5 separate regions of the Homo sapiens genome follow, and all the other regions are reported to be linked to region 1. Evidence: microRNA targets listed by miRTarBase, many of them from high-throughput screens and not tested one by one. Region 1 holds a microRNA gene; each other region holds the end of a gene's coding sequence.
The links. The annotated mature microRNA hsa-miR-6847-3p reads GGCUCAUGUGUCUGUCCUCUUC and lies in region 1 at 1,226-1,247, opposite strand. An mRNA with a match to its seed (bases 2 to 7 or 8) in the 3' UTR can be bound and repressed. Matches are read on the target gene's strand: a 7mer-m8 pairs with bases 2 to 8, a 7mer-A1 pairs with bases 2 to 7 and ends in A, and an 8mer does both.

Region 2: miRTarBase lists CPT1A as a target of hsa-miR-6847-3p. Seed matches in the 3' UTR shown: 7mer-m8 at 1,517-1,523.
Region 3: the mRNA of CKS2 is a reported target of hsa-miR-6847-3p. Seed matches in the 3' UTR shown: 7mer-m8 at 3,091-3,097.
Region 4: miRTarBase lists CYB5R3 as a target of hsa-miR-6847-3p. Seed matches in the 3' UTR shown: 7mer-A1 at 1,890-1,896.
Region 5: the mRNA of DTD2 is a reported target of hsa-miR-6847-3p. Seed matches in the 3' UTR shown: 7mer-m8 at 2,694-2,700.

Annotation. Positions count from the first base shown.
Region 1 is chr8:144,076,939-144,081,164 of GRCh38, reverse strand. MIR6847 (microRNA 6847) reads right to left here and starts at 1,291; the gene lies at 1,223-1,291. EXOSC4 (exosome component 4) reads right to left here and starts at 2,493. Exons shown (of 3, transcript NM_019037.3): 1 at 2,266-2,493; 2 at 1,016-1,222; 3 at 517-923. The coding sequence starts at 2,436. The coding sequence ends at 564. LOC124902038 (a long non-coding RNA gene) reads left to right here. Exons shown (of 2, transcript XR_007061141.1): 2 at 1-3,166. RefSeq lists enhancers at 2,422-2,721, 2,732-2,781.
Region 2 is chr11:68,754,330-68,758,555 of GRCh38, forward strand. CPT1A (carnitine palmitoyltransferase 1A) reads right to left here. Exons shown (of 19, transcript NM_001876.4): 19 at 554-3,401. The coding sequence ends at 3,315. Among named protein-coding and RNA genes, the nearest start is that of TESMIN, 4.9 kb to the left of the region's middle.
Region 3 is chr9:89,315,406-89,319,631 of GRCh38, reverse strand. It overlaps CKS2 (CDC28 protein kinase regulatory subunit 2), which reads right to left. Exons shown (of 3, transcript NM_001827.3): 3 at 2,929-3,259. The coding sequence ends at 3,207. It overlaps SECISBP2 (SECIS binding protein 2), which reads right to left and starts at 1,132. Exons shown (of 17, transcript NM_024077.5): 1 at 1,020-1,132. The coding sequence starts at 1,055. RefSeq lists a silencer at 773-1,092 and an enhancer at 1,263-1,482.
Region 4 is chr22:42,616,516-42,620,741 of GRCh38, reverse strand. CYB5R3 (cytochrome b5 reductase 3) reads left to right here. Exons shown (of 9, transcript NM_000398.7): 9 at 797-2,902. The coding sequence ends at 969. Among named protein-coding and RNA genes, the nearest start is that of RNU12, 3.4 kb to the right of the region's middle.
Region 5 is chr14:31,444,860-31,449,085 of GRCh38, forward strand. It overlaps DTD2 (D-aminoacyl-tRNA deacylase 2), which reads right to left. Exons shown (of 3, transcript NM_080664.3): 3 at 1,177-3,595. The coding sequence ends at 3,270. It overlaps HEATR5A-DT (HEATR5A divergent transcript), which reads left to right. Exons shown (of 4, transcript NR_110045.1): 3 at 785-875. Among named protein-coding and RNA genes, the nearest start is that of DTD2, 11 kb to the right of the region's middle.

The sequences.
Region 1 (4,226 bases):
ATCCGCCTGCCTCAGCCTCCCAAAGCTCTGGGATTACAGGCGTGAGCCACCATGCCTGGCTGTTGTACTTTCAGAGCCCAAGGTAAGCAGCAGGAAAAGCCCAGGGGGCTCCAAACCATAGTCCAGAGGTTGTGGGACATGGCCCCCACATCCCTAGGGTGGGTACCCAGAGCCAGCTGAGTTCTTCCTCAGCCCTTTGCTCAGGGCCCCCGATGTGCTGGAATAAGGGTAACAGATTCCTCAGTCTAATGGCCTGGCTCATCTTGCCAGGCCCTGCCTCCTGCTCAGCTGCCTTGAGTCCTTACTGGGACATGCTGCTTTTTCCACCCAGGGCCTCCCCTACAGAAACCCCCTAATCCACTGTTCTCTTCAGGGTTTGAATCAGGCTACACAGAGATAGGCCGTTCATGTGTGGGCGAGGGTCCCTAATCATCCCCAGGAGCCAGCACCAGACCAGGCTCTGCCAGCCTTCACATGGCTCTGAAGTGCTGTTAGGTGATAACGTACAGTGAGGGGTGTGTGGGCAGAGGAGGGTTTTATTCTGGACATGGGTGGCTGGGTGGTCAGTCCCCCAGCAAGATAGAGGCCTCACGCACATGCTGCCGGACCACTCGATCTAAGAGGGTGTGCACATCTCGGGCAGCCTGGGCAGCAGCCTCCAACACCCGCTCCAGGTGGTCCTCGTGCAGCCGGGCATCCATCTCAAGCAGCGCAATCTGTCCTGAGGCTGGCAGCAGGGCCAGGGCCAGCTGGGGGCCACCAGCTGCTTCCTCCACATGGCTGAGGTCCGCCAGGGCTGTGCCGTCCACGAAGCCAGCTGAGCACGCACACACAAAGTCTCTCATGGGTATCCCGGCATCCAGCACTGCCAGCGTGGCTGCATTCACACAAGCTGCATAGGTCCCACCATCTGCCTGTAGCACCTGCAGGGAACCCAGGGTGTCAGTCTATCAGACTCCCTCCCCAACCCCATCACACCCTTCCCTCCCTGGATTGACGGCTGCAGCTGGCTCACCTGCACATAGATATCAATCTGGGAGCGTGGGTGCAGCTGTGTGAGGATGGCTGCTTCGAAAGTCTGGCGGAGCTGCAGGCCCATCTCACAGGACTTACGGTCCCCATGTGGCCGTCGCTTGCGCTCACCTGTGCTGAAGGTCGCTGAACTATATTGACAGTTCACTAGGGCCCTGTCCGGCAGGGCTCGAGCCCGGGAGCCCCGGATCTGGAAGAGGACAGACACATGAGCCAGGCCCACTCCTTCCAGCTCACACTCCACTGTCCTCTGTGGGTCTGCCTCTCCCTCCACTTTCAATGCCTCAGCAAGGGGCAACTGCGTTACCTCCAAAACAAAGCCCCCTGTTTTGCGCTCTCTGTCTTGCATGTGTCGCCCTCTGGCACCTTTTAATTGGCTTCCTTGTGTCCATCCTTGCCCCATTCCCTGCCAACCCAAGTTTACAAACATCAACGCTGCTTCTGTCTCACCTACACACTCAAATCCTAACTACCTTACAAAGGTTTCACATTACATATGAAATAAGATCCCAAATCATTTCCCTACTCTACAAAACCCTAAGTCCTCACCTCCCCGGGAACCCTCAACCTGATTTGGAGTTATCCCCTCTTTCCCCACCAGCAGTCTTTCTGCTCTGCATAAGTGCCTTGCTTGTTTTCACCACCGTGGTCTTCGCCCTTCTGGTTCCCTCCGCCTGGAAAGCAGAGCTCCCACACTCATGCGCTAAGCAAACACTCTTTCAATACCTTCGCTGGCCAGGCAGTTACAGCGCTGGAAGCACAGTAATGAAACCAGATAGTTTTATGTAAAGTTCCTTTCTTTAGGAAGCTTATGTTCCAGCGAGGAAACAAAGGGGAAAATGCTTAAGCAAAATAGGCATTTGAGATTGTAGGTGCACAAAACAAAGGGTTTATTGTAGGGCGAGAAGTACCGCGTGGATAATAAGGTCGTCTGGGAAGGAGTGACGTCGGAGTAGAGCTGAAAGGAGAGGGAGCGAGTGGGGGAGTGCCTAGCACGTTGAAGAGCCGCAAAGAGGAAGGAGGGCGCAGGGACAGAGGCCGATGAGAAAGGCAGGACCACCGCGCAGCACACTAAGGACTTGCGTTTACTCCGAGTGAGATGCGGTGCTGAGCATCGGCTGTGTAGACTGAGGCGCGCCGGCCGTTGCCCCTCAAGTCCCCGAGCCAGCGCTCAGCCCGGCTGCCCCGCAGCTCCCACGGCCACACGATTCCCCATCCCGCGCGCCCACTCGCCTCGTGCGGGCCGTAGACCACAGCCAGTGCCTTGGTGTTGCCCTGCTCAATGTAGGCCGAGCCGTCAGCCTGCGCGAACACGCCCATCCGCGCCTGGATCTTGCGCAGCTCCCCGGCGCGCCGCCCGTCCACCCGGTAGCCCTGGTCCGACAAGAGCTCCAGCCCCGCCATGCTGCCCGGCCGCCAGGTCCGCTCTCTGCCTACTTCTCTGAGCCGCGGGAGAACTACAGCTCCCGGCGGCTCCGACCGCCCGGAATCTACGGTTTCCGGAGGTCCGCCATCACTTCCGGTTCCGGGGAACTACAGCTCTCCGCGGCCCTGACCTCCGTGGATCTGCGGTTTCCGGCGTTCCGCTGTCACTTCCTGTCCTGGTGAACTGGAGTTCACCGCGGCCCCGACCTCCCCGGATCTACGGTTTCCGGCGGTCCGGCTCTACTTCTGTCTCCGGGGAACTGCGGCGGCGCTATCGGGGAAGCAGCGGCTGGGCCCGCAGCCGTTCCCGGAGCTGTGCCACGGGTGCCAGGAGGTGGGCGCCCGCCGAAGGAGGAATTGCCCAGTCACGCCCTCGTGACCAGTGGTGCCTGCATTCAGCCCTTCCCCGCGCCCCAAGTGTGAAAGTGGAAGGATGAACCCAGTGGGGTGCGACACTGACAGGAGAAGGCATTGAGCGGTCCTAGGAAAGTGACCAGGCTGGTGTCCCAGGATGGTCCACACCTGGCACCTCTCCAGTCCTCTCATGCCCTCCCTTTACACCGAGCTTCCACACTGCAGTCAGGTGGGCCTCCCTTTTCCCTTTGAGGATGCAGATTTCCTCATCCTTTCCAGAGAGGGGTTGTATGTCTGTTTATCTCTTGCCACTTAACCTCAGCGGCTTCAAATAATAAAAATCATTCTATTATTATGTGCTGCAATCTGGGGTTATCTAGGCTCAGCTAGATAGTTTGCACTTAGGATCTCTCCTACAGTTGCTGCCAGATGGTAGCTGGGGCTGCAGCCATCCTAAAGCTTTCTCCCTCACATCTTTGGTGGCTGATGCTGGTGGCGGGCCAGGACCTCATCTGTGCCTGTCAGGCAGCACACCTACATGTGGCTTCTCCATGCAACCAGGGCTTCCTTGCAGTATGGCAACTGGGTTCCAAGGGTAGCCTTCCAGGACAACAAGGTGGACAACATGTGCATGGTATTTTTAGGACCTAACCTCAGAAGTCACATAGTGTCCCTCCTGCCACACTCTGTGGGTCAAGGCAGTCAGACAGATCTGCCCAGGCTTAAGGGATGAGGACAGGGACCCCACCCTTCAGTGGGAGGAGTGTCAATATTAGACTGTAGGAAGAGCAGGCGGGCTAGGGAAATGTGGTCTGCTGCAGGGGCCCAAGTTCAGTTGTCACAGCATCCCCTCCAAGGTGGTTAAGCTCTCCTGAAAGACTGAGGCATGAGAGTGAGTGAGCAAGCCACAACCCTGCTGCTGCAGCTGGTCTGAGGCCATGATGGGTCACCACCCTCTGCCACTTGCCACCCCGGATTCCCCACCCTCTGCTCTACAGCCACTCTGCTTATTGTGGAGCCCTTTTCCCCTTTCAGTCTGAGCTCTTACTGTCCCTGTTCTTACTGAGTCATCGTTTTTTTCGTTTGTTTCTTTGTTTTGTTTTGTTTTTTGAGATGGAGTCTTACTCTGCACCCAGGCTAGAGTGCCGTGGCACAATGTCAGCGCACTGCACCCTCCACCTCCAGGGTTCAAGTGATTCTTCTATCTCAGCCTCCCAAGTAGCTGGGAAGGTGGGATTACAGGCACCTGCCACTATGCCTGGCTAAGGTTTTTTTTTTTTTTTTGGAGATGGAGTCTCACTGTCACCCAGGCTGGAGTGCAGTGGCACAATCTCAGCTCACTGCAACCTCCACCTCCTGGGTTCAAACGATTCTCCTACCTCAGCCTCCCAGGTAGCTGGGATTACAGGCATGCA
Region 2 (4,226 bases), not on the chromosome of region 1:
CTCTCTCAGATCTGGTTGTTTGCAAATGTGTAAGAGAGCACCTCCTCTCTTTCTCTCTCTGTCTCCTTTCACCATGTAGAATGCCTGCTCCCCCTTTGCCTTCCACCATGAGTAAAAAGCTGTTTGAGGCCTCCCCAGAAGCAGATGCCTCCATGCTTCCTGTATAGCCTGCAGAACTGAGAGCCAATTAAACCTCTTATAAATTACCCAGTCTCAGCTATTTCTTTACAGCAATGTGAGAATGGCCTAATACAGGTGCTCAAGAAAAACAGAAAAATGGAATTCATGCATTACTTTTAACATATTTATTGAGCATCTTTTATGTGTCAGGCACTGTTCTCAGCATTGAGGCAATGGAATGGATGAATAAATGCACAGCAAGTGAAAATCAACAGGCTTTTCTTTCCAGCCCAGCACATGAACTTGGTGATGTCCATGGTCTCCTCCAAGGCCTTGTTTCCATATGCTGAGACTTTCCACTTTGTCTCAAGTATCTGAACTTGGTCCTTGACTTATAATCCCCTTAATATAACAAAAGAGACAGAAACAAATCTTGTAGTAGACTGGGGTTAATGTTTTATTAATGATAACCTACATTCACACTGCATTTCTAAGATTTACATCCAAAGAGCATACTGTATTTACATGCACCGGTCAGCCCAAGATAACAAATTCAAACCATGGCTGCGTTAAGACAATGGTTTGTTCCAATTAAATTAAACAGATAATACTCTTATCACCCCCCTTGGACATGTACAATAAGACCCCTCTTTCTCCCCTCAAGGAATATAAAATTGCATTGATAACTGCACTGATGAGCAACAATTACATTTGAAACATTTAAAACCTGAGAGAGAAACCCAAATATGTTTAAGCACTCACGTCTACACTCAAAATGCCCTGTGAACTCTAGTGTAACACAGATTGCTCAGTGGTCAACAGTGCATGATCTAGCTGGCTCTGATAGGGACTGACGCCGGCTGCTGGCTTTTAACGGGAAGTGCTATTCTTGCCCAGGGCAGAGAGAGCTACATCCCCGCTGCCTGCTTGACGGACAGTCAGGGGCTTTTGTTGTTGGTTTGTTTTTGCTTTTTTTTTTAGACGGAGTCTCGCTCTGTCGCCCAGGCTGGAGTGCAGTGGAGCGATCTCGGCTCACTGCAAGCTCCGCCTCCCGGGTTCACGCCATTCTCCTGCCTCAGCCTCCTGAGTAGCTGGGACTACAGGCGCCCGCCACCACGCCCGGCTCATTTTTTGAATTTTTAGTAGAGACGGGGTTTCACCGTGTTAGCCAGGATGGTCTCCATCTCCTGACCTCGTGATCCGCCCGCCTTGGCCTCCCAAAGTGCTGGGATTACACGCATGAGCCACCGCGCCTGGACGCTTTTTTTTTTTTTTTTGTCTTTTGTTTTCATTTTTTCTTGCTTTCAGGAGAAAAAAAATCTTTGGCCCATAAAGGTGGGATTTTTACATCATGAAGTATACATACATAAAACATGCATGTGGGCCGCGCATGGTGGCTCATGCCTGTAATCCCAGCACTTTGGGAGGCTGAGGCAGGTGGATCACCTGAGGTCAGGAGTTCGAGACCAGCCTGACCAATATGATGAAACCCCGTCTCTACTAAAAATACAAAAATTAGCAGGGCATGGTGTTGGGCGTGTAATCCCAGCTACTTGGGAGGCTGAGACAGGAGAATCGCTTGAACCTGCAAGGCAGATGCTGCAGTGAGCCGAGATTGCACCACTGCACTCCAGCCTGGGCAACAAGAGTGAAACTCCATCTCAAAAAAAAAAAAAAAAAAAAAGGCACGTGTTCTCCGGCAAGCACCTTCCATCGACTCCAACAGTTCAGCCATCGCTGTTGTACTATCGGGGTGCAGCACTCTGAAGGAGTCAGGCCCAACTAGAACCAAGTGGTCAAAAAAATAAATACACAATTTAAAACAATGGACAGCTAAGCTTGTCATGACAGACAGTGGGAATTTCATTCCATGATGCTTCATTTTTGCATTAAATACTGAAGATGACTCAGTGCATAATTGCTTTGTGGTCCATGAGACGCTTTCGTGAAGGCACTCCTATCTGAAGGACAGGCTGGGTGAACACCTAGCACTGTCACTTGAGACATCTTGGCTGGTCACCAAGGTGAGCCGGCATACTGTCTCCATCACCCTCTGGTGAGTCTTTCCCCTCACCGGGTGGGAGGAGAAGGCCATCCCTTGGGGTCGTGGAGCCACTCTCTCCTCACCACGGTGGGCTGCCCTCCCCTTCCTCACTTGCTAGTCCCCGCTTGGTGGCCGATGCCCTGCCCTCCTTGCTGTCACTTTGGGAAAGAGATCCTCCTGAGGCACGTGTCATGTTTTATTCTTGAGTGAATTATCTGACCATCACGGCCCTTGCTCCCCTTTTATGACATGTGCCTGTTATTTCTTTTGTTGCTTATGATGACAAGAAGGCAGTCCCGGGAGGGGAGTCTGGCACAGCTGCCCTTGGGAAGGAACTGGTGTTTCTGAGGGGGAGGGGGCTGGTGGGGTGTAGCAAATGCTTATGTACGGTTATCCATACTCAGTCAATTGTGAAGGGAACAGTATACCCACAATTCCACCCAAAGACTCTACAAAATAAATCTTTCTCTCCATCTCCCTTACATTTAGGGCCTTTCATTTTTAAGGCACTGGGTTGTGAAGACTTGAAGACATACAAGGTCAGTAAAACTGAAGACCTTGCATCCTGCTTGCTTCAAATGTGGAGAGGCAAACACAGGCTACTGGACCAGACGGGAACGGTTACCCACGGTGACAAAAGCAGGTCTCCAAAGCACAGCATTTTGGTTAGTGCATTCCAGATGTGTTAGCTACAACTGGGGACACCAACTTGAATAACACATTTTTCTTTTAACAAAACAAAAGTTTACCCTGCTTGGATGATGCTAAATGCCCTTAAGCACTAGGCCTTCGGTTGCCACTGAGAAAGCACACCATTTCCATTCCACTGTGTGTGAAGCCACAACCCTACTAATTCCTTCATTAACTCAACAAGATTTGCATCCCTTAATAAATCCAAGCCGATGCGGAGACATCAGGGGAGACTTTATCAGATGTCCCCCAAGGGAGGGCAAGTCTGGAAGTAGTGGGGTTATGCTTCACAGGGGAGAGATACTGTTCTAGGAAAAAAAAACACCCACATTTTCTGGAAGGAAAACTGAGTTTTTTTAAGAGCAGTGTTTCATCCCGAGCTAAGGTCAGGATTAATGCCTATTTTTCATTTGGTTTGCATCAGAAGAGCTCGTTTTCCTTCCCAGCAGCTCCAGTGGAATTACTTTTTGGAATTAGAACTGAGACCAAACAAAGTGATGATGTCAGTCATTGCTTCTTTCAGGTGCCTTCCAAAGCGATGAGAATCCTTTCATGTAAAAACAAAAACCAAAAACCTATTAAAACGTGGCCATCCCCACATTTCAAGCTTTTTCATTTGCAATCTGACCCAATGTTTCATTGAAATTCCTTTCTGCCAGTTCTCTAAGATCTGACCAACGTCTTAAAGCTTAACTTAGACATTCCAGAGAAATGCTGAGGGTAAAGAGATGACAGCTGATGTGTTTGTGCGGGTGTGTTGTCGATCTAAGCCTTCCCCTAATGCCAATGCGTTTATCCCACGGAAAACACAATGACCATCCTGAGCATGGTGGCTCATGCCTGTAATCCCAGCACTTTGGAATCGCTTGAGCCCAGGAGTTCAAGACCAGCCTGGGAAACATGGTGAAACCACATTTCTACAAAAAATACAAAAATCAGCCAGGTGTGGTGGCACTCCCCTATAGTCCCAGCTACTCAGGAGGCTGAAGTAGGAGGATCCCCTGAGCCCAGGAGGCTGAAGCTGCAGTGAGCCGAGATCACACCACTGCACTCTAGCCTGGGTGGCAGAGTGAGACCCTGTCTAAAACAAACAAACAAACAAACAACAAAAGAAAACCGCAGTGAACAAATAAACCCCAACTTCCTCTGTTAACAGCGACAGTGGCATGGGTTGCCAGGCTATGTACGACAAGGAAAGCAGAATATAAATAAGGGCAATGTGCCATGCTAGGGAGGAGGTCCCTTGTTCCATCCACAGAGGAAGCCGGGGGTCCCCTGCTCTGTATGCAGATTTCTTAGTGTGTACCCATTATTTTTAGTTCATCTTCCAAGTGCTAAAGAGTCTGAAAGTTACAGCAGCACTCCAACGTTA
Region 3 (4,226 bases), not on the chromosome of region 1:
TTGGCCACAAACATTCAGAGATCAAGCAAATATAAACAAACAAAAAGACCCAAGAGGTGTTCCTAATAGCCCCAGAAATGTTCCCGATGTTGTTTAAAAACTTCTGCCTCGTAAAGACAAGAACCTGCTTGCTAACGATTTCTCCCCAATGCTTTTTTTTTTGTAGAAAAGGCAGTAGTTCAAACATTAAAAGTGAAAAATGACAACGAATTCAAGTGGAAATAAAACAACACAGATTATATAGTTTAGATCTTGGAATAAGGGTGTTTTTACCACAGATTCACTTAGAAATAATAGAACTGCACACAGTACAACTACTGCAGTCAAATACACGTGGACTGTTTAACTACAGCACCCAAAACACACTGCAGACGTTTATTTCCATTACATTTTCTTGAAAAAGTTGCACAAAAGCATATGCATTTTACTCATGAACCACTAAGTCTTGCTTTATTGAAATACCAAACCTTGCTTTGCTAGAAAATATTATCACCACGAGCCTTTGAAATTTCAATTCACTAAGATTTCTTTCTTTAGTTTTTAGTGACGTAGTAAGAGATTTACTTTCACCGAGAATTTTATGGGTCTAAAAATGATGCAAGCGATCGCCAGGGCTCCATCTAGTGGTAATGCTGAGTACGTAGAGCGGAGAATGACGTTCAGAAAAACGCAGGATCCTTTAAAACAATCTATCCGTTCCCAAGAGCGCGGGAAGCTCGCCAGAGTCCCCCCGCCCCGACTGCGGGGAGCGCCGGGCTGGGCCGCAGTCACTGCGCTGGGTGACATCGCACCACAGACGCGGCGCTAACTGTGGGCGGGGTCTGTAGCCGCTGACCGCCACCCCAAGGCGGACCCGAGGCGGGGCGCGAAGATCGCGGCCACCCGGTAGGGCGCTCCCGTGCCGTCACCAGCATCCGACCCACGCCCGCTGGACCAGCCCCGTCACCGCCCGGCCGAGCCCCCAGTGCGAGGCAGGCGGACGGACTGAGGCTGCCGAGAGAGCCCCCGTCGGCCCTTACCTCGCTTTCGGGCTCCCGCGGCCCCTCCGACGCCATGCCGCGAGGCGCGGAGGAGGCCGCGTCACGGAGGCCAGCAGCGGGCCGTCGGCTTGCCGGACAGACAAAGCGTTTCCGCCCCCGCAGGCGACGCCAGGAAGTGCGTCACAGCAAAGCGACAGAGCCCGCCCTTTCTTCCGGCCGGAAGTACGCGGCGGCGGCACTGGACCTGCGCGGGCAGCACGTGGAGGCAGTGGGGCGCTTGCGGAAAATGGGGACCCCCAGGAGTCCTCTGGGCTGGGGACCCACCGTAGCTTGCGGGAGTCTTGGATCTGCCTTTTAGTGCTGGGATATCGGAGATAGTCTCCACCAAGGCAGTAGCGACTATAAACAAGAGTTAGGCCGTGATTTACTTTTCTCCCCTGGGCCTCACGAGTCTAGCGTTAGGACGGGATGGGGTAGTCTGGAAAGGCCTCTCGCTGAGGTGACCTTTGAGCAGTCACCTGAAGAGAAAGATTTACTAATAAGGAAACTGAGGAGGCCGAGATTACTCTCACCCCCGCCACTGCATTTCCCTAAAATTTCCCCAAGATTGGTGACTTACAGGAATTGCATACCCTGTAGGTCCTACAAACCTGGAAAGCCTACAAGACTCTTGATGGTATCCTAAATTTCCAGAAACCTTAAGTTTGGAAGTAGCCACAGAAAATAATTTAAAAATCGCTCGGTTTCTTTCAAAAATTAAAAAAAGTGCTAAGATATGGTCAAGAGATGGAATAGTATAATTTTCACGAGAAAAAAAAAGTTCTACACAGAGCAAATTCGTTAAATATTGAGAGAAATGTATAAAGTGCGGCAGGGATAGGAGGTTGACCAAAAGTACAGGGAAGAATGCAGAGTGGATTTCAATAGATGGAGGAGGAACTTTCCTCTCACTCAAAGGCTTGGAGGAAAGTGCAAGTGGATTTAAGGAACAGAAAATGTCAGCAAAACAGGCTATTTGAGGAATGGGGATTAGGTTGAGGCAAATTGTAGGTTTCCTCTGTCCCTTGCACAGACGTTAACTCTACCATTGAATACGAAGTATTTCAAGCAAGTAAGGCAGGTGCAGCTCCAGTTTTTTCAGATTTCTGTCCTGGTGGGTCTCAGTTCACTACACAGCCTCTAGCAGAAGTGATCCTTAGGGTCTGGTCTGGCAGGAATTTATGCTGGAAGTTTAGGGGTAGCTGTCGCCTTCCTTTCAGCACTATTGGGTCTACCCGGAAGTGTAATGAAGTTTACTTGATTTTGTCATGTTTCTGTTGGTTACCCTGGACACAACCTATGGTAGTGGCAGTAGATTTTAGGATGCTGCTAATCACAACCTTCAAAATTTATTGCCCTCATGTGTAAAGACACCCTTTCTTAACCAATGGACCTGATGTATGCTGGCTGCTCATTTAAGATGTTTCTATAGCATAGCAATTAATTAGAATAACTCCAAAACACTTTCCTAGCAGCTAAAAAGGCAAAGGTGTTTTACAGTGTTTTTGAACTTTTAAAAATGTGGTGATACTTTATAGGAAACATTATCCCTACTTTGGAAATGTAGAAGAGGATAAAAAAGAGGTTTCTCCCAAGACCACCAGTGGCCAGTGAAGTAGCCCAGATAGTATTAATTTGGGCTTTCCTGTTCTAGACAATTCTCCAGGAATTCAAGAGGTAAAATCTACTTTGGCTTTAGTTTAAACATATCCCTGGTAATTAATTTCTTCATTAAGTGAATTAAATGGTATCCAGATCATACCGCACTATTTTAAACTCATTTAACATCATCTTTAAGGTAAGTTAACTTCCTCAGAGCTAAAACTATAACACTGAAATCAATTTCAATAGTCACAAATTTCAATAGTCACAAATTAAGAAAATATACCTCAAAAACTTGAAACAGTGATAAATGCAACATACAAACTTTATTGAACAAAAGTAAACTGTTTCAGTAAACTCAAACAGGCACTTAAGAGAAAAACTGACTGGAAGAACTTTTATCTTAAACATCTTACAGTAACCTACTTGCAGTTGCATTTAACTGAGCTCTGTTGCTGTGAAGAATACAGCTCATGCACAGGTATGGATGAAAGATTTGTACATTTCTCAAGTATTCACTGAATACTACCTTATATACACATATACATTAAATTTGAAAAAGATTTGACGATCCCCAGATAAACTTCATTTTTGTTGATCTTTTGGAAGAGGTCGTCTAAAGAGAAGAATATGTGGTTCTGTGGAAAGAAAATGTTTTGAATCATTTTAATATGATTTTCATATACTCAACAGAAATTCAAAAGTATTCTCAACTAAGCCAGAATAAAATAAACTAAGTCCACTATTAATTGGTTTGAGGTATCCAAAATGATTTTTTTTTCACAGTTACTGTCTACAGTAAATAGATTAAAAGTAAAAAGATTACCTCTTTATAGGGAAAAACACCTCCTTCAAATCACCTACAGGATCTCATACTAATGCTCATCCCCATAGATTCTGTTTCAATAGGTGGGGCACAGAAATCTACACTTAAGTTCTTCAGTTGCTTTTGTATTATCTGGACTGAATTCTAATAGGATTACGTATCTCAATCCCAAGAAAGTGATGAGTCCTTTTAGAGTTTTCGATGCAATGCTTTTCTTTAACAGCAGAGTAGAAGATAGTTTTAATTCCACCTACTTCAGCTTCTATAGTATGTCTTCAAATTTTGTTCAAAGCATTATAAATGCTGTTAGATTTACTGATAATCCAAATATAAAATTTAACCCACACTGTTTTAGTCTAGAAAACCCACAAAGTTTTAGTAGAGTTTACTATTTAACACCTGAAAAACTTTTGGTTAATACCACATAATAGCATAAGGTACCCATAAGCACAGTTGAGTTCATATGCTATTACCTCATTTAAACTTCATGTGGTATATATCCTTTCAGAGGGCTGAAGAATCACTTTAAATTAAATCAATTTCCACACATAGATAAGAACACTTGTCTTAGGATATACTTATGATAAAATGCTTTGGGATACTGTTAACAATGATACAGATTTTAAAATACATTTTTTTTTTTTTTTTTTTACTTCTTACATTATTTTCCAAGTAGAATAATGTGTTACTTTCACTGCTGTGGTATTTTATTTACCATAAAATTGGAACTCTCTCCAGAGTCAAGAAATTAGTCATTAAAAAAAAAAACTTATCAGAAC
Region 4 (4,226 bases), not on the chromosome of region 1:
GTTCCAGGGCAAGCGGGACTGCTTTGGCCCCTCCCCGTCAGGACCTTCACAGCGTGGAGTGTATGCTGTAAACTTGGGCCATCTAGGCAGGGTGTCTGTGTCAGCCAGTGCCAGCCCTCCTGGCCTGAGGCTTCAGCAGCTTTTCTCTTGGTGTTGAGGGCTGTGGGGTGGTTGTTTCTGGTTACTAAGGATAGAGACCAGCCATATCATCGTGGGCGCTCAGGGCTCGAGGGGGCAGGACACACAGCTGTGGATGAGACTCAGTTCCTCATGGGCCGACATTCTTGGGGAGTCACAGTGGGCTCATGGAGGTGGGGGCAGTTAGAGACTGTCACCCTGAGCAGCCTGGGGCAGAGCACCAGCCTGGGGACCTCTGGATCCTGGAAGGTACATCTCAGTCGTGTCCCTGCCTCATTGTGTGATCTTGAGCAACTCAACTCTGGGTCCTCTGGGCCTCAGTTGCCACATCTGTAAAATGGGATTCATATTCCCCGCCCTGTCCACCCACTGGGTTGTTCCAAGGGACACCCCGGAGGCCAAATGGAAGCAAAAGGCTTTGCAAACTGTAAAGTGCAGTCAGGGGAACCATGATGGGCTTTGTACACTGGTTTCAGGCTGCAGGGCCTGAGGCCATAGGCTTGAGTCAGGGTTGGGGGCAGGGGGTCCTGGTGACAGTTTGCTGGGATCAGCCTCTCCATTCTTCAGCATTTAAGGAATTCACCGCCTAGGGTTGGTCGGTCAGCAGGTTGGTGACCACACAGCCACACGTCAGCTTACCTGGTCTCTCACCCCACAGCCTGGGACTACGGCCAGGGCTTCGTGAATGAGGAGATGATCCGGGACCACCTTCCACCCCCAGAGGAGGAGCCGCTGGTGCTGATGTGTGGCCCCCCACCCATGATCCAGTACGCCTGCCTTCCCAACCTGGACCACGTGGGCCACCCCACGGAGCGCTGCTTCGTCTTCTGAGGGCCGGGCACGGTCACACGGCCACCCGCCCCGCGCACCCCACGCCCTGTTCACGCTCACCCAGTCACCTCCCCACATCGCACACTGGGGCCCCGGGTTCAGCCTGGCCTGCCCGTGCCCTGGTGAATCACCTGGCTGAGCAGTTCCCCTGGAGCCCCTTCGGGAGCAGGGCTGTGTCCCAGATGGGCCACGGCTGAGCCTTCAGAGTACGTCCTGCCTGGCACTTACTGGTCCTTACCAGAGACGCCCAGCCCCATCCCTGTCCTCATGACCCCTCGTCCACCCCCCACACACACTATAAGGCTGAGGGCTGCCAGCAGCCCCGTCTGCCCACCATTCCCGGCCGTGGACCATAGTCGGGATGTCAGCAGACACACATGGGCAGCCCAAAGCTGCAGGTGCCAGGGCCCACCCCAGCCTCGCCTGTCACCCCCACTCCCGCCTCAGGGCCAGGCCCAGGCCTCACCACCTGACGCTGCATGAGACATTGACACCAGAAAGCCCTCTTGGGGGCACTGCTCCCTACCCCAGGGCCCTGGCCAGCCGGGAGCTTGGCTCTCCTCTGGCTAGAGTGGGAAGAGGGGGCTGGCCATGGGGCCCTCCCAGAACCTCAGCATTTCCTTCCAGCCCATCCAAACACTGAGGCAGCCTTGGGGAACCCCGAGCTGGGGGGTTGGCAGCCCACTGCACCGCCTCAGGGTTTTGGGGTCCTGGGCTGGGGCCACCATCCCTGATGGCAGAACTCCCACAACCACATGTATTTATTCCTCTGTCCTAAACCGTCCCCTCCTTCCCTCACCCCCAGCACAGGGGGATTCTGAGCAGTGCCTCTTGTCTGAGGGACATATCAGTGACCTCGACGTTGCCTTTAGACTACAGTTGTGTTAGCCTCTTGCGTATTGGCTTTTTCAGAGTCATTTATGAGCAGAAAAAAAAAAAGTAAAACTTTGCTAATATTAACCCTTCTCTAGCTCCTCGAGGGTCTGTGACCTGCAACACAAGGGGTGGGGTCAGGAAAGGGCTGGGGAAGACCTAGCATTTTTTTTTTCTTTTTTTTTTTTTTTTGAGACGGAGTCTCCCTTTGTCACCCAGGCTGGAGTGGCATGATCTCAGCTCACTACAACCTCCACCTCTCGGGTTCAAGCGATTCTCCTGCCTCAGCCTCCCGAGTAGCTGGGACTAAAAGTGCCCACCACCACACCCAGCTAGTTTTTGTATTTTTTTTTTTTTTTTTTTGAGACGGAGTCTCGCTCTGTCGCCCAGGCTGGAGTGCAGTGGCGGGATCTCGGCTCACTGCAAGCTCCGCCTCCCGGGTTCACGCCATTCTCCTGCCTCAGCCTCCCAAGTAGCTGGGACTACAGGCGCCCGCCACTACGCCCGGCTAATTTTTTGTATTTTTAGTAGAGACGGGGTTTCACCGTTTTAGCCGGGATGGTCTCGATCTCCTGACCTCGTGATCCGCCCGCCTCGGCCTCCCAAAGTGCTGGGATTACAGGCGTGAGCCACTGCGCCCGGCTCCAGCATTTATTTCTGATGTATCTTTGTGGTAGAAAATTTGGAAAGTGCAGAGAAGTATACACAGGAAGAAAAATTCCCAACCCCCAGAGGCAAACCAGCTGAAACCACGCAACCCCAGTCACCCCAATGCACCGCGAGGCTGCTGCCTCCTGTCAGGGTCAGATGAGCCTCGAGGCTCAGGAAAGTCAGAGGATGCCATCTGCATGGTGGTAAATTACAGAGGTGATGAGGCAAGGTGGGTGTGGGGCTGTTCTTAAAACGGGGCAGCAGGAAGGCCCCAAGGAGATGGATTTGGGCTGGGACGGGAAGAGAGAGCTGGCCATGCTGGGGTGGGTGGGTGTTCAAATGGTGGAAACAGCAGACGCAAAGGCCCTGCCGTTGGAACCAGCTTGTGGAATAAACTTTCAGAAACAGATCGAAGAAGATAGGTGGCTGGAAGGGGCAGCAACGATGAGGCTGGAGAGGGAGGCGGGGCTAGGCTGGTGCTCCGGAGACTTGCTGGGTGGCCCTAGGAGCACAGTGAGGCCAGTGTGGCTGGAGGGGAGTGGGGAAGAAGAGGGGACGGGGCAGGTTCACAGGAAGGAGGGCCCAAGACCAACCTAGGGGACTAGGAGAGCCCTGTCTCCTCTCACTTCGCATTTTCCATTCTGTCTCTGGCCACCTCACTACCTACAGTGGCAGGAAAAGGAATCTCAGACCCAAAATGGCCTTCACACTGTGGCGGGGGACTGCTAGCAATGGACACGCGTTAGGTTTCATCCTCATTTCTGTCCCTGTCTGAGGCTGAAAGGCACAGGATTTGAACACAGGCCTGCCTGAGCCCACAAGAGGCTGCCTCCTGGGAAAGGGGACGTGGGAAAAGGGGATCAATTGGACCCGATTCCCACCCTCTCCAGGTCTGTTTCCCCATTCAGAAAATGGGAGAGGGCTCTAAGGCAGCGATTCTCCATACAGACTCGACACCTTTATTTATTATTTTTGGGACGGAGTCTCGCTCTGTCTCCCAGGCTGGAGTGCAGTGACATGATCTTGGCTCCCTGCAGCCTCTGCCTCCCAGGTTCAAGCGGTTCTATTGCCTCAGTCTCCGGAATACCTGGGGATTACAGGCGTGCACCACCACACCGGCTAATTTGTTTGTATTTTTAGTAGAGATGGGGTTTCACCATGTTGGTCAGACTGGTCTGAAACTCCTGACCTCAGGTGACCCACCCTCCTCGGCCTCCCAAAGTGCTGGGATCACAGGTGTGAGCCACCATGCCTGGCCAACACCTTTAAAATAACAGTTGTAACGGGCCCTTTACGCTGCAGAATTCACAGGCAGTATCACCTACCTATACGAAGAATTTTAAAAATCAACACAGCTCTAAATGAGTTGTAAAAGAACAAGAAAGGAGGCCGGGTGCTGTGTCTCATGCTTGTAATCCCAGCACTTTGGGAGGCCGAAGCAGGTGGATCACCTGAGGTCAGGAGTTCGAGACCAGCCTGGCCAACATTGTGAAACCCCCGTCTCTACTAAAAATACAAAAATTAGCCGGGCGTGGTGGCGTGCGCCTGTAATCCCAGCTACTCGGGTGGCTGAGACAGGAGAATCGCTTGAACCCGGGAGGCGGAGGCTGTGGTGAGCTGAGATTGTGCCACTGCACTCCAGCCTGGGCGACAGAGCGAGACACCGTCTCAAAAATAAAAATAAAATTGTCCTCCGCATCTGCCCTACACTGCCCAGCTGACCCCACTGGCCA
Region 5 (4,226 bases), not on the chromosome of region 1:
CTATTCAGAAATAAATGGTATACCTTCTTTTATGACTTGAACTCATGAAAGAATGGTAAAAGTATGTTTGATTTTACTTTATATGAAAGTACTCAAGCTATTACAACCATATCCATTGTGTCTTATACACAATGGAAAATATAGTATTTTCTATAATTGAATCCAGAGGTTTCTAAATTGGCAGATAAAATAGTACCTGTATTTAGATATTCTATTTGAAACATGCTTTAATCTTAGGAAAACAGAGGCAGAAAGCACCTAAATTAGGTGCAATCCTGTCTGCTCCTAATTTAGAAAATAAACCAATTTATTGGCTATTCTTTCTCAAGTGATCCACATTGAGAGATGCTAGGTCTTTATCAAGATCAATTTCAAAATTTTTTTTTTTTTTGAGACGGAGTCTTGCTCTCTCGCCCAGGCTGGAGTGCAGTGGCGCGATCTCAGCTCACTGCAACCTCTGCCTCCTGGGTTCAAGTGATTCTCCTGCCTCAGTCTCCCAGGTAGCTGGGACTACAGGCGCCCGCCACCACACCTGGCTAATTTTTTGTATTTTTAGTAGAGATGGGGTTTCACCATGTTAGCCAGGATGGTCTCGATCTCCTGACCTCGTGATCCACCCGCCTCGGCCTCCCGAAGTGCTGGGATTACAGGCGTGAGCCACCGCGCCCAGGCCAATTTCAATTTTTAACAACTGTCACTACAAGAAAGTCAAGAAAATAGAAATTAGTCCTCCCTCTTGTGTGACCTTGGGGAAATTCCTTAAGCATTGTCTTACTTTCCACAGCGCTATCCTCATCATACATATACTGTGAAGATAAAATATCTGTTGAAGATTCTTTGAGCACCTTGGGCCAGAAGAGCTACAGAAAGCCAAGGTATAGTTATTTTCATATCCACGACTTCATTTGCCTTTTCCCTTGTTGTAGCCTCTCTGGAAATTAAGCAAAGATGCCTATCACCTTCTGCTTAATAACCCTTCATGTACTTGAAATTGTTATTCTCCCCAGGTACCTCAAGCACATTTTTTAAAGAGGATTGCCTAAACTCTAAAACAGCAATCAAGGGCTATGAGTCAGCATTTCACCTAGACATAAAATCAAAATGGTTTAAAATAGGTAACATTATCTTTTTGAAATATGTACATACCTCTTTGGAGAAACTTTGAGACAACTGGAGTTTGCAAGTTTATGAATAGTTTATTACATTTCAGTAAGTGTATTGTGAATCAATAAAGCAAAAGTTAAGGACAATGAGCTCATTACCAAGCCAGTTATTGATTCTCTGGTTCCAAAATAGAACAGTACAGGAAGGGTATAGAGAAAATAGGATTTTTCATGATAAAAATTTTAAGCATCTTAGGAACACAGACCTAAAGAAACTATAAGACACAACGGAAATTTCAGCAGCTACTTAGGATGTTTATTTATTTACCTTTTTTTGCCAATTAGAATTAGTTATTTGGTTTTTACTCTTAAAAAAAAAAAGTATTTTCAACTCAAGTCAGAGGAGTTTGCCAAAACTGAATATTACCTCTTACTGACTTAATTATTCTTTCAATTTCTTGTATATCTTCCTCTCTTGCCTTTGAAAAGTTTACCTTACTAGCTGTCTATCTTATATCACTGTCGTAGCTCAGACTGCCCTAACAAAATACCATAGGACTGGGTGGTTTAAACACCAGAAATTTATTTCCTCACAGTTCTGGTGATTAGAAGTTCAAACTCAAGGTGTCAGCATGGTCTGTTTCTGGAGACTACTTTCTTTCTGGCTTATATGTTCCAGGATGGGATGGTTGGAGGAGCCCCATCTCCAGATACCATCACATTAATAAGGGCTTCAACATATAAATTTTGGGGACGGGAACATCTAGTCCAAAACATTCACTAACAGAAAAATTGACACTGGCTCCATATCATCAAGCAGATAATATGGAAATGAACAAGTCAATTTGTTTTCAAACTATTCTTATGGGAAGCTTCCCTTTTTCTCCCTTTTACAGCAATCTAATTCAATGGAAAAGGAACTTCTTAAACAATTTATGAACTAACACTAATTTCATGAACCAGTTCTTTAAAAAGCGAAGACAAAAAGTGAGACACATGATTTTGGTAAAAACTGAAAAATAGACCATTAACCCATTTATATAGTATGTTTAATAAAAACAACTTTTAAACCCTTATACTTTGTTCTTATATCAAGTAAAGATTCTTAAAGTAATGTAAAACATTTGAATGTCCCTGGAAAGTAATATAACACACAATAACCCTTCTATATTACATATATATCTATATGTATATGTATATGTTAGAGACTGGGTCTTGCTATTCTGCCCAGGCTGGTCGCAAACTCCTGGGCTCAAGTGATCCTCCCACCTCGGCCTCCCAAAGTGCTGGGATTATAGGCATGAGCCACCACATTTGGCCCTATATTACATTTTCATGCATATTATTAAAAGAAATGGTGACTTACATATGGAAATACAGAAAACTGAAATAGTAAACAAAATTAACAAAGTTATAATTGGGTTGTGCTGAAGTTTACCTAATTTTAATACAAATAGTTATTTTTATTACATGCTACACAAATTTGATGGTATAAGAAATGTGTTTTTCTTGTTTGCATGAATTTCTTCATTGCAAAATACTTAAAATGTACATAATTTTTAAAAAACAACTAAGAGGCCGGGCACGGTGGCTCATGCCTGTAGTCCCAGCACTTTGGGAGGCCGAGGTGGGCGGATCACGAGGTCAGGAGATCGAGACCATCCTGGCCAGCACGGTGAAACCCCATCTCTACTAAAAATACAAAAAAATTAGCTGGGCATGGTGGCATGCGCCTGTAATCCCAGCTACTTGGGAGGCTGAGGCAGGAGAATCGCTTGAATCCAGGAGGTGGAGGTTGCAGTGAGCCGAGATTGCGCCACTGCACTCCAGTCTGGCGACAGAGCAAGACTCCATCTCAAAAAAAAAACAAAAACAAAAAAACAATTAAGAACATTTCCTTAATGACTATGAAGTGAATAGACAGCATATTTCAAATTTTCAAGTAGAAGGGTAGAGGAATGTAGGACAAAAGGTGACTGAGATCCAGAGTTTAGGTGACTTGGCAAAGTCATCCAATTAGCAGGTGCAGAGTTATATATGAAACCCAAGATTTTCCTGTCTAAAAATGCTGAAGATTAGTATATTCAAGATTAAGGGGAAGAAAATCTAATTATACTTTAGATCATTTCATACCAGAAAACAGCTATAGAAACTAGTTTTTCATTTTCAAAACTCAATTAAGTGTGTGAATGGTCCGTTGGTGTCCAGCTTTAACACCTGCCTGTTCCCATAAGTGCCATGTTCCACTACAACCCTAGCTTCAGCACACTTGCTATTAGCAGCTACTTCTTTTTCACATAGAGTCACAAATTGAGAGTAAAGTTCAAACCCTTCTTCTTTTCCAGAGTTAGAGTGATATTGCATGTTTCTTCCTTTTAGTCTTCCTCCAAGGGTAGCTTGAGGGATAATAAGAATGTTGCCAGGTAGATCCAATATAGAGACATGCTTGCCATTTTCTGTCTCACTTAATTTCACATTTAACAGTGTATTAACTGGGTGAGGAAGAAAGGCAAAACATTTTAAAGTGAAAAACAAACATGAAGAAAACCATCAAGTTTTTAGTCAGCAAATCTCATGTTTAAAATTCAGTTTGTCAGCTCATGCCTCTAACCCAAAGTCTCTATTTAGATTTAAAATACTGCTTCACTAAGCTAAATAATCTAAGCATGAAAAATAAGGCAATTTTCATGCAGAAAATGGCATGATATTTTAAATCTGAATTGGCAGTTAAGATAACCTAACAATAAGTTCATCCAGAAAGGTCTAAAGAATTAACTGTACACTGGAACCTCAAATATTGTTCCCCTGGGGGAATACATGAGAAGATTTTACCTTCCTGTTCTTTTTATTTAGTAAGTAAATCCCACTGGAAAAATATGAGGATAACTCCTCCTCACACCAAATTCTGCTTGCTTGCTTGCTTGCTTTATTTATTTATGTATTTATTTAGAGACAGAGTCTCACTCTGTCGCCCAGGCTGGAGTGCAATGGCGTGATCTCTGCTCACTGCAACCTCTGCCTCCTGGGTTCAAGCGATTCTCCTGCCTCAGCCTCCCAAGTAGCTGGGACTACAGGTGCGTGCCACCACACCCGGCTAATTTTTTGTATTTTTAGTAGAGATGG